Regions from separate parts of the Homo sapiens genome. Here region 1 is linked to region 2. The links come from fine-mapping of genetic effects on gene expression. A gene starts in region 2. The other region holds a variant in brackets. All regions are shown on one strand. Distances are from middle to middle.

Evidence for each region. PIP is the estimated chance that this variant, and not a neighbour inherited with it, causes the effect.
Region 1: its variant is the best candidate, but not a certain one, in a credible set for the expression of RMND1 in stomach (GTEx, PIP 0.57).

What each region holds. Positions count from the first base shown.
Region 1 is chr6:151,420,494-151,425,871 of GRCh38, forward strand. It overlaps RMND1 (required for meiotic nuclear division 1 homolog), which reads right to left. Exons shown (of 12, transcript NM_017909.4): 7 at 3,032-3,138; 8 at 2,048-2,112; 9 at 752-828. Among named protein-coding and RNA genes, the nearest start is that of RMND1, 29 kb to the right of the region's middle. The variant C/T (reference allele first, on the strand shown) is at 2,434.
Region 2 is chr6:151,448,873-151,454,250 of GRCh38, forward strand. RMND1 (required for meiotic nuclear division 1 homolog) reads right to left here and starts at 3,254. Exons shown (of 12, transcript NM_017909.4): 1 at 3,144-3,254. It overlaps DCPH1 (damage control phosphatase 1), which reads left to right and starts at 3,594. Exons shown (of 5, transcript NM_024573.3): 1 at 3,594-3,714. The coding sequence starts at 3,674. RefSeq lists enhancers at 2,982-3,031, 3,222-3,671 and a silencer at 3,832-3,951.

The DNA of each region.
Region 1 (5,378 bases), 28 kb before region 2:
GGGATGTTTCATTCCGTAAATCCTGGGACAACTACAAGAATAATAAAAGCTGAAAACCTTTCCAGATACTTATTTAAAATGATTCATCAGTTTTTAGACATAGTTATTCCCATTTTAACATCTCGAGGCATCTTAAAATTAATGGTGTCTGACAGGTGGCACTTGAGACTTACTTGTCTTTGCCTTAAATAATTTATTTTCTTATGCTTTCCTTTTCATATATGCCCAAGAGGGAATGTGATATAATTTATATCCAGCTAAGATTAAAAGATATTTCAGTAAGTGTAAAATTTTAATCCTCTGATAAAAAAAGTATTGTCATAGTTTAACTGGCAGCAGTTTTTCTCTCCAGTGGCATCTTGGTGTCTCAGATTCAAAGAAACTTTTCTGTAGCAATTAAGCCTATTTAGCATTATGATGCAGTGATATATTTTTACAGAGAATTCCCATTAACCAAATTCAGGAATATGTCTTTCTACCTTCAAAGAACACCTACTGTGCTCCTTAATGTGGGTTTAATGTAGATGAATCGTGATCTCTTTTGCACATGCGTGATTTCTTTCAGTACAGTCTTAACACAGCCCAACTACTTCTAATGGGTAAGAGTTCTCCCTGCTTATAATCAATGAAATGAAAACAGCTACAGTTCCCATAAACGTGTAAATGTTTGCTCTTCACCACAGAACTATGGGAATGTTTTCTTGAGATTGTTAAATATATGAAATATTTTATTTAGAGAGAAAACTTTTACCTTAGAGCAAAGAGTTCACCGATTTTCTGCATAACTTCTTCATGAGATAGTTTCACTTTCTTCCCAGCTTTTAAAGCCTAGTTGAGAGGGAATCGGAAAAACCAAAAAACCATGTATCTCTCTTTCTAATAAGCATTAGGTCAACAGGGCAAAATCTGAAGTGGCATAATTTGGATCCTATGTAAATATTTTTTAGGATGGCTGTCTCCCAGATTAATGTCTTAACTCACCTTGAAATTTCATAATTTTATTAGGTAGAAATTGTATATTCTCTTTTTTCATTTCCCTTCTCATCAGCATTTTCAATGATATATACATTCCTAATCTCTTAGTAGAAAAGCAGGGCCTCCTTTCCGAAGTATAATTAGATTACTCTTTCACAATAAAGACACAGTTAATTACAATATGATGATTTTTAATGTATACTGAAATTTCAATATAACTTTATATGTATTTTTCATACCACTATTTTTCTCATAATTTAGCAAAACACTTTCTTAAATCAGGAAAAGTGGTCATAATTTCCATTCTCAGAGAGAAACATTTCACTTTTTTCTTTAATTCAGTTACATTAAAAATACTGCAACTGACGGGCATGGTGGCTCGTGGCCTGTAATGCTAGAACTTTGGGAGGCCGAGGCAGGAGGATCGCTTGAGCCCAGGAGTTCAAGACCAGCCTGGGCAACATGGCCAGACCCCATTTCAATTATATTAATATTAAAAAAAAAATACTGCACCAACAGAGGAAACAATTTGAAGTTTTAAAAAGTAAAAAGTAATCAATATGAAGTTTCTTAATTTGTCATTTTATATGTAACTGGGAGTTCTTAAGTTTACTGTAGTTTTCTTATTGTTTGTAATAATGTTGTTGTACTCCTAAACAATCGGCCCTCTATAAGTTCTGCAACTGCAGATTCAACCAACTGCAAATTGACAGTATTTTGAGAAAAAAGAATGGTTGCATCTGTACCGAACATGTACAAACTGTTTTTTCTTGTTATTATTTCCTAAATAATACAGTATAACAACTATTTACATAGTATTTACATTATATTAGGTATTTTAGGTAATCTAGAGATGGTTGAAAGTATACATGAGGATATGCATAGGTTATATGCAAATATATACCATTTTATATCAGGGATTTGGACACTGGTAGATTCTGGTATCCAGTGGGGTCTTGGAACAAATCTCCCATGGATACTGATGGATAGCTATATATTGTTATATTGGGAAATTCATATTTTTTACATATAAAAATCAATCCTTGAATAAGCATAAAATTGATATAATTACCTCAGGAATTGACTGAATAGATTCAATAAATTTATCCAGTGATGCTTCCCAAATTGCCAGTTTTACTGGGAAAAAAATTAATAATGGAACATTTCTTTATCATCATATTCACATGTATATAAAATACATAATTGCACAGCATCTTCACTACTATTTCAGTAATAGTTTAAGAAAAAGTACTAAAACCTTGAAAATATAATTTAAGAATAGTTAATTATCATAAAGGACAGAATTAAAGTGGATAGAGGAAACTGAATCGCTTTCCATGCCCTATTGGAAGACCAAAGCTACATTTAGTAGAACTCTTGATTTTCTAGTATTACATCTTGGAAACTGAGGAGGGTAGGGTACACCTTGATACCATGGGTAGCTCTGCAGATAGGGCG[C/T]GACTAAGACTTTCCTGGCCTCCCCTTCACTCCTCAGGACTAAGAGTAAACCTCAGAAATCTCCGAAGCCCCTCAGAGTGGGATGGACAGGACGCTGCAGCAGCCACCTAAGGTAGACTGCTGGCAAAAGAAATTCTTAAAGAACTTGTATAGTTTTATTCGGGATGTGGATCTTTCAGAACAAACTTATAGCCACTGTGACTCTGGGTCCCATTCCTATGGAACACTAGAGTATGTTTTTCTACACTGGGACCTGTGCCCAGTCACACAAGGCTGGGCTTCTCTGTCTGGATTAGAGACTATCTAAGAATAACAATCGCATAGAGAGAAGAGAAAAAAACAAAGGCTAATATAATCATCATCTAAAAAATACTTTTGGAGAGGTTAAGCTTTATTAATACAATTAATAAGGAATGAGTAACTTCAGCACAGTACTATCTTTTATACTAGATATTTTTTCTGATGGAGGGAAAAAAAGGAAAAGGAATGCTAAGGCTTTGTTGAGTATTCTGAAAATATACCAAAATCGTGACTATTTAAACTTCCCTCAGTGAAATGACAACTGTAGTACCCTATCCCATAAGCAGTAGTAACTTACCAGAAAGGCATAGAGCATTGGAGAAAGCAAACTTCTCTAGAATGGCATCATCTAAATCCAGCTCTGAATTTAACTTGATTTCCCCCCTGTGAAGTTTTGACTGTCCCCTGTGAAAAGCAAAAAGATAATACCTTCTAAATCTTAAAAAGCACTTTAACTTTTCCTTTGAAAAAGACACCATATCATCTTTCTGGAGGTCATTTTGACAATTTGTATCAAGAGTGTTACAAATGTTCTCATATCCTTTGGTCCAGGTAATTCCCTTTCTAGGAGTTTATCCTAAGGAAATAATCTAAGATGCAAAGAAAAATTTGTATACAAGAAAACTTTTTTTTTTTTTTTTGAGACAGTCTCACTCTGCCGCCCAGGCTAGAGTGCAGTGGTGCGATCTCAGCTCACTGCAACCTCAGTCTCCTAGGTTCAAGCGATTCTCCTGCCTCAGCCTCCCTAGTAGCTGGGATTACAGGCATGCGTAACCACACCCAGCTAATTTTTTTTGTATTTTTAATAGAGATAGAGTTTCACCATGTTGGCCAGGCTGGTCTTGAATTCCTGACCTCAAATGATCCACCCACCTCGGCCTCCCAAAGTGGTGCGACTACAGGTGCGAGCCACCTTGCCCAGCTGAAAACTTTTAAAAAAATGGTCAGTGTTGGCTGGGCACGGTGGCTCACGCCTGTAACCCCAGCACTCCGGGAGGCCGAGGCAGGTGGATCACGAGGTCAGGAGATTGAGACCATCCTGGCTAACATGGTGAAACCCCGTCTCTACTCAAAACACAAAATAAAATTAGCCGGGTGTGGTGGCGGGCGCCTGTAGTCCCAGCTACTCGGGAGGCTGAGGCAGGAGAATGGAGTGAACCCGGGAGGCGGAGCTTGCAGTAAGCCGAAATCACGCCACTGCACTCCAGCCTGGGAGACTGAGCAAGACTCTGTCTCCAAAAAAAAAAAAAAGGTCAGTGTTTAAGAGTAAAAAATTAGGAAATAAACCAAATGTTCAGTAGGGGTTGGCTCAGTAATAGTCACTCCACACAAGAAAAACTTAAAAGTGTGTTTTGGAAGGATAGTTAATAAAAAGGAGAACGTTCACAGTAAATTTCTATGTGAAAAAATGCTGCATATAAAACTATATATGGAGTGTAATCTAAAATCACACTGACATGATGGGGTTGGGGAGGGAGGCAAGGAAGTTGTGAAAAATGAGTATGTGACTGTGGAGAATCCTAGACAGGGGACAGGGGAAGAGCGGAATGTGTGAATATAAACATCACAAGCAAATGGAAAAAAGACAGGGTAAACCTTCACAAAAGATGTCAGACAAGAAGTGACGGCCAAAGGGAGGGGGACAAGGGGCCTGATGGAGGGCGGCATCTGCTATGACAGCCTCAGATGGAGGAAGGAAAGCAAAGACAGCAGTCACAAGAGGTCTTTTTTTTTGAGACGGAGTCTTGCTCTGTCACCCAGACTGGAGTGTAGTGGCGTGATCTTCGCTCACTGCAACCTCCGCCTCCTGGGTTCCAGCGATTCTCCTGCCTCAGCCTCCTGAGTAGCTGGGATTACAGGAGTGCACCACCACATCCAGCTAATTTTTATATTTGTAGTACAGACAGGGCTTCACCATGTTGGCCAGGCTGGTCTTGAACTCCTGACCTCAAGTGATCTGCCCGCCTTGGCCTCTCAAAGTGTTGGGATTACAGGCATGAGCCACTGTGCTTGGTCACAAGATGCTTTATGAGTAAACTGGGCCCATGCCACAGAGCTGAGCAGATCCCTGGAATCATGGCAGAACTCACATAATAACCATGTAGGTGGCAGCCAGGACAGTCTTTCTGACGAAACAAAATAACTGACTCTGGGATCCTAAGCACTGAGGATTTTACTCCTCACAGACTGTACAGTAACGTGTGTGTGTGTGTGTGGATAAGCGTACACACACACACACACAAGGGTCTAGCAGTAGTTGGATATGGAAGTATTTGGTTGGTGCAAAAGTAATCGCGGTTTTTGCCATTTTAATGTAAACCTAATAGAACACAGAAAGGGGATTCACAGGAGCTGTATCTGCAGGCCAAGGGCTGAGTAACTACTAAAGATAATAAAACTACAGGCTGCTCATTTGCTGTCTCTCTCAGGTTTATATCCTTACCTCTGACTGCAGCCACCACTGGGCTCAGGCTGACTCACAGTCAGGTGCCCTTTGGCAAGACAGGATTCAATAAATCTCATCGGAAAGCCAGTTAGCTGCAATTATAGGGTTTTCCCCAGGATTAAATGAAATAATACATGGAAGGCACTTACTTAGAAAACCGTGACTGGCCCTATTGGTGGTGAGCGCTGATTACTCAGCT
Region 2 (5,378 bases):
TCCAGACCAGCCTGGCCAACACGGCGAAACCCCGTGTCTACTAAAAATACAAAAATCAGCCGGGCATGGTGGCATGGGCCTATAATCCCAGTTACTTGGGAGGCTGAGGCACGAGAATGGCTTGAATCTGGGAGGCGGAGATTGCGCCACTGCACTCCAGAATGAGCAACAAAGCGAGACTCTGTCTCAAAAAAAAAAAAAAAAAAAAAAAAAAAGCCTGGCGCGGTGGCTCACGCCTGTAACCCCAGCATTTTGGGAGGCCGAGGCGGGTGATTCACAAGGTCAGATGTTCGAGGCCAGCCTGGCCAACATGGTGAAACCTCGTCTCTACTAAAAATACAAAAAAATTAGCTGAGCGTGGCGGCGGGTGCCTGTAATCCCAGTTACTCGGGAGGCCAAGGCAGGAGAATCGCCTGAACCCGGGAGGTGGAGGTTGCAGTGAGCCGAGATCGCGCCACTGCACTAAAGTCTGGGCGACAGAGTGAGATTCTGTAACGAAAAAAAAAAAAAAAAGCTAAACCCCTCAGAATGGCCTGCATGGCACTACATTATCTGTCCTTTATCACCACTTTGACAGCACTCTCCTTTGCTTATTTTGCTCCTCATTCTGGTCTCTGGATCTGTGCACTTGCTGTTCCTTACGCTCTTCTCCCAGGGATCTGAAAGGCTCACACCCTCACCTCCTTCAGATGTTTGCTAAAATGTCTTCTACCCAGTGAAGCCTTCCCCAACCACTACATTAAAAACACACAACCAGCCCTCTCCCTCTCCCTCCTCTCCCTCTCCCCACGGTCCCCCTCTCCCCACGGTCTCCCTCTGATGCCGAGCCGAAGCTGGACTGTACTGCTGCCATCTCGGCTCACTGCAACCTCCCTGCCTGATTCTCCTGCCTCAGCCTGCCGAGTGCCTGCGATTACAGGCGCATGCCGCCACGCCTGACTGGTTTTCGTACTTTTTTGGTGGAGACGGGGTTTCGCTGTGTTGGCCGGGCTGGTCTGCAGCTCCTAACCGCGAGTGATCTGCCAGCCTCGGCCTCCCGAGGTGCCGGGTTTGCAGACGGAGTCTGGTTCACTCAGTGCTCAATGGTGCACAGGCTGGAGTGCAGTGGCGTGATCGAGGCTCGCTACAACCTCCACCTCCCAGCCGCCTGCCTTGGCCTCCCAAAGTGCCGAGATTGCAGCCTCTGCCTGGCCCCCCATCGTCTGGGACGTGAGGAGCCCCTCTGCCTGGCTGCCCAGTCTGGAAAGTGAGGAGCGTCTCTGCCCGGCCGCCATCCCATCTAGGAAGTGAGGAGCACCTCTTCCCGGCCGCCATCCCATCTAGGAAGTGAGGGGAGTCTCTGCCCGGCCGCCCATCGTCTGAGATGTGGGGAGCACCTCTGCCCCGCCGCCCCGTCTGGGATGTGAGGAGCGCCTCTGCCCGGCCGCCCCATCTGAGAAGTGAGGAGACCCTCCGCCCGGCAGCCACCCCATCCGGGAGGGAGGTGGGGGTCAGCCCCCGCCAGGCCAGCCACCCCATCCGGGAGGGAGGTGGGGGTCAGCCCCCCGCCCGGCCAGCCACCCCGTCTGGGAGGGAGGTGGGGGGGCCAGCCCCCGTCCGGGAGGAAGGTGGGGTGTCAGCCCCCCGCCCGGCCAGCCGCCCCGTCCGGGAGGGAGGTGGGGGGTCAGCCCCCCGCCCGGCCAGCCGCCCCGTCCGGGAGGGAGGTGGGGGGGTCAGCCCCCCGCCCGGCCAGCCGCCCCGTCCGGGAGGTGAGGGGCGCCTCTGCCCGGCCGCCCCTACTGGGATGTGAGGAGCCCCTCTGCCCGGCCACCACCCCGTCTGGGAGGTGTACTCAACAGCTCATTGAGAACGGGACGGGATGACAATGGCGGTTTTGTGTAATAGAAAGGGGGGAAAGGGGGGGAAAAGATTGAGAAATCGGATGGTTGCCGTGTCTGTGTAGAAAGAAGTAGACATGGGAGACTTTTCATTTTGTTCCATACTAAGAAAAATTCTTCTGCCTTGGGATCCTGCTAATCGGTGACCTTACCCCCAACCCTGTGCTCTCTGAAACATGTGCTGTGTCCACTCAGAGTTGAATGGATTAAGGGCGGTGCAAGATGTGCTTTGTTAAACAGATGCTTGAAGGCAGCGTGCTGGTTAAGAGTCATCACCACTCCCTAATCTCAAGTACCCAGGGACACAAACACTGCGGAAGGCCGCAGGGTCCTCTGCCTAGGAAAACCAGAGACCTTTGTGCACTTGTTTATCTGCTGACCTTCCCTCCACTATTGTCCTATGACCCTGCCAAATCCCCCTCTGCGAGAAACACCCAAGAATGATCAATAAAAAAAAAAAAAAAAAAAAACACAACCAGCATCCATTCTCTTATCTTCCTCCACTTTGCATTTCTCCATTGTTTAACATCACTTGCACACCTTTAATTTTTAGTTTATTAATTCATACTGCAAACGAACTCAGTTCTTATCATGTGCCAGGTATTGTCCTAGTTGCTGACAATACAGCTGAAAATAAAATAGACAAAAATCCTATCTTTTGAATCTTTTGAACCTTGCATTGGGAGTGACAGACAAAACGAGGTAAATCAGTAAAATACGTGAGACACAAAGCTAAAGGAAAAAAATAAGAGGAAAGGGCAGATTTTTGTGTCTTCCTTCCAGAATGGAAGCTCCCTGAGGATACGGATTTGTGTTTTTTCCTATTATATCTCCTGACAATAGCGCCCAGCACATAGTAGGCATTCGATCGAATTTTTAAAATGAAATACAAGGCAGTTACTCAGTTCCCGGGCACATTTCAACTTTTAGAGAACAATTACACCAATTAAGAAAATCGATTACAGCTAGGCTACGATTCGAGAGCTAAGTGGCGCTCATCTTTGGGAGTATGCCGTTCAATTCCTCAAACTCAAAATTATTTTATCGATTTCTACAGTTACCGCGGTGCACTGGCTCAAAAAAAGGGTTCATTAATTGAGTGCTTTTTACTCCCAGCTAAGCTGACCAAAGATCACGGTAAGAGGCAAAGGGTCACAGCCGCACTGGCGTAACCCGTAACTGTACACGTTCCGGGCGGCCAGGAGCCAGGGCGCAGACCTCCAAGCCGGACCACTCGAGCTGCTAAAGAAAAGGCAATACACTAACCTCTCCGCCGGAAGAGAAGAAGGAAGCGCCAGGGACGCACGCTTCCTCGGCAGGACTGCAGGGAAAGAGCCGCACCCCCAGCCTCTCACTACTGCAGCCAACCCATCTCCTGGAAGGGCGCTCCCGCCCACCCCCGCTACTGCGCAGCCGCACTGAACTCTGGTCCCACTTAGCGGGAGAAACTCGGGCCACGTGACTGTCTGACCACGTGAGCCGCGTCGCCGCGACCTCTTCCGCTCCCTAGGCCCTGGGACCTCCCGGTCCCTTGCCTGCTTCCGGCTTTCGCTCGCTTCCATATCCGCTCCTCTAGTCGCCCTCCGCTGGCCCCGCCTTCGTCCCCGGAAGATTGGGTCTTCTGGCGAGCCACTGTTTGCCGTTTGATCGGGCACCAAATAAAGTTTCTTTATTCAAAAGCACTTTTTTTTTAAAGCCACACCACCCCCATTCTCAGCTCCTCCTTCGCGGCGGTACCGCCTCTGTTTCTGCGGCGATTGAACAGCCGAGCTTTGCGGCCGGGATCGCGGAAAGTGATGGCTGTCGTCCCGGCGTCTCTCTCAGGACAGGACGTGGGGTTAGTCTAGCTTTTCTCCTCCCCACTTTTGCGGAAAGCCGGGCCTCGCCGGGAGCCTGTGGGGACTAAGCGGAGGGCGCCCGCTCCCCGGTGGGCTGCGTTCGAGTCCCGCCGCCGGGCGCGGCTTTCCGGGGCGCCTTTGCGGGTTTCGCGGACTGGCTCGGAGGCGAAGGGAGGCGGCCCCGGGGAGGGAGCCTGCCCGCGGCGGCTGCTCGTAAGGATCAGGACAGGGGTCAGCTTCGCGGTCTGTTCCTGGCGGTCACTTTTTATTTATTCACTTTAATAGACGCGCTTTGGGGGCGTTAAAATTCTGCGTAAGAGTTGGGGATCTCAGCGCTATTAAGAAACGGGTTTCTCCCTGTTGTTGATCAAATCGTAATCTCACAGTAAGAACTGTCTAGTTTTTTGCTTTATAGTCGTCACGCTACTGATTCTTGGGTAAAGTTGTGGGTGACCGTGCAAATAACATCCATTTGCATAAATCGAATGGCCAAATTTATATTTGAAATTTGTCCTTACTTCAAAATATTGCAAAAGACGAGAACACTTTGAAGAAAATAAACCTGGGCAGAAAGTAGGTTGAGGCCAACAAAGTGGCGCCAATGGCCCCAAATTGAGGCAGTCACTGTTTCAGGTCATGCAAGTATAGAGAGTATCTCCTTCAATTTTGCGCCCTAGGGCTTCTGGCCTCACTCCAGTCCTGGCCAGAGACTTTGTTCCAGAGGTGCAGGAAATGTAGTAGTTAGGAAAACAGTAATACTTTCCAATTAAAGTAAAATCTCAAAAAAGGACTTACTATACCTACTGCCTGGGAAAATTCAAGTGACAGTTGATTTAATGTTCCTGCTCACCCTCTGAGGTATTAGTGATTTCTTTTATTAATGATTTTTAAAAATTAAATTCTGATCAACGTAGTTATTATGCGCATTAAAACCTAATCACTGTTTTGGGTGGTACTGAAAGCACCACAGAGTCGGAAAGTGTGTGCAGTTTTTTTCTTAAAGTTCTATAGCTATCATTTGAGGAAACCTTTTGAAGAAATACCCAAGTTACAATCTAGTAATTTAACAATTGTCTCCTGTGATCTGGAGATAAAAACACTAGTCAGCTAAGCTCTGTGCTCTATATTTAAAACTGCACAGAATTTCTCCACCAAATAAAGCTTTTTTTCTACCTGTATCATGTATTTCCTTAGAATGATATAAAATGATAATCTGTAAATCTTGGGTTTTGTATGAATAAAATCAAGAATATCTTTAATTTTTTAATGCAGGTATAAGTTTTTCTTCATCTCCAGCTTGCTTCATTCTTGAACACTTCTATAAAATCTCTGATTTTTTGAGTGGGAAGAGACAGTAGCACGCCTTCATTTGCTTAGGGGCAGAATAGGATGGAAGGAGTCCATTGTGCAGATAGAGAAGGCAGAGAAGGGGAAAATTTTTGAAAATAATTAAAATTGACTTAGAAAATAGACAGAATGGAGAGAAACAGGCTTAAAAGTACCTTTAATTCTTTATGTTGTTCAAGCACATTAGACCCTTTAGGTGGTTTTAGATGCATTGCTTCATTCATCTTTCTAAGCAGGTGACTTAGCAGATAGTAGACCTGGGACAAGAGCCTGTTTGATTTCTAAGCTAATCCATTCCCTATCCTATCACTTTGCT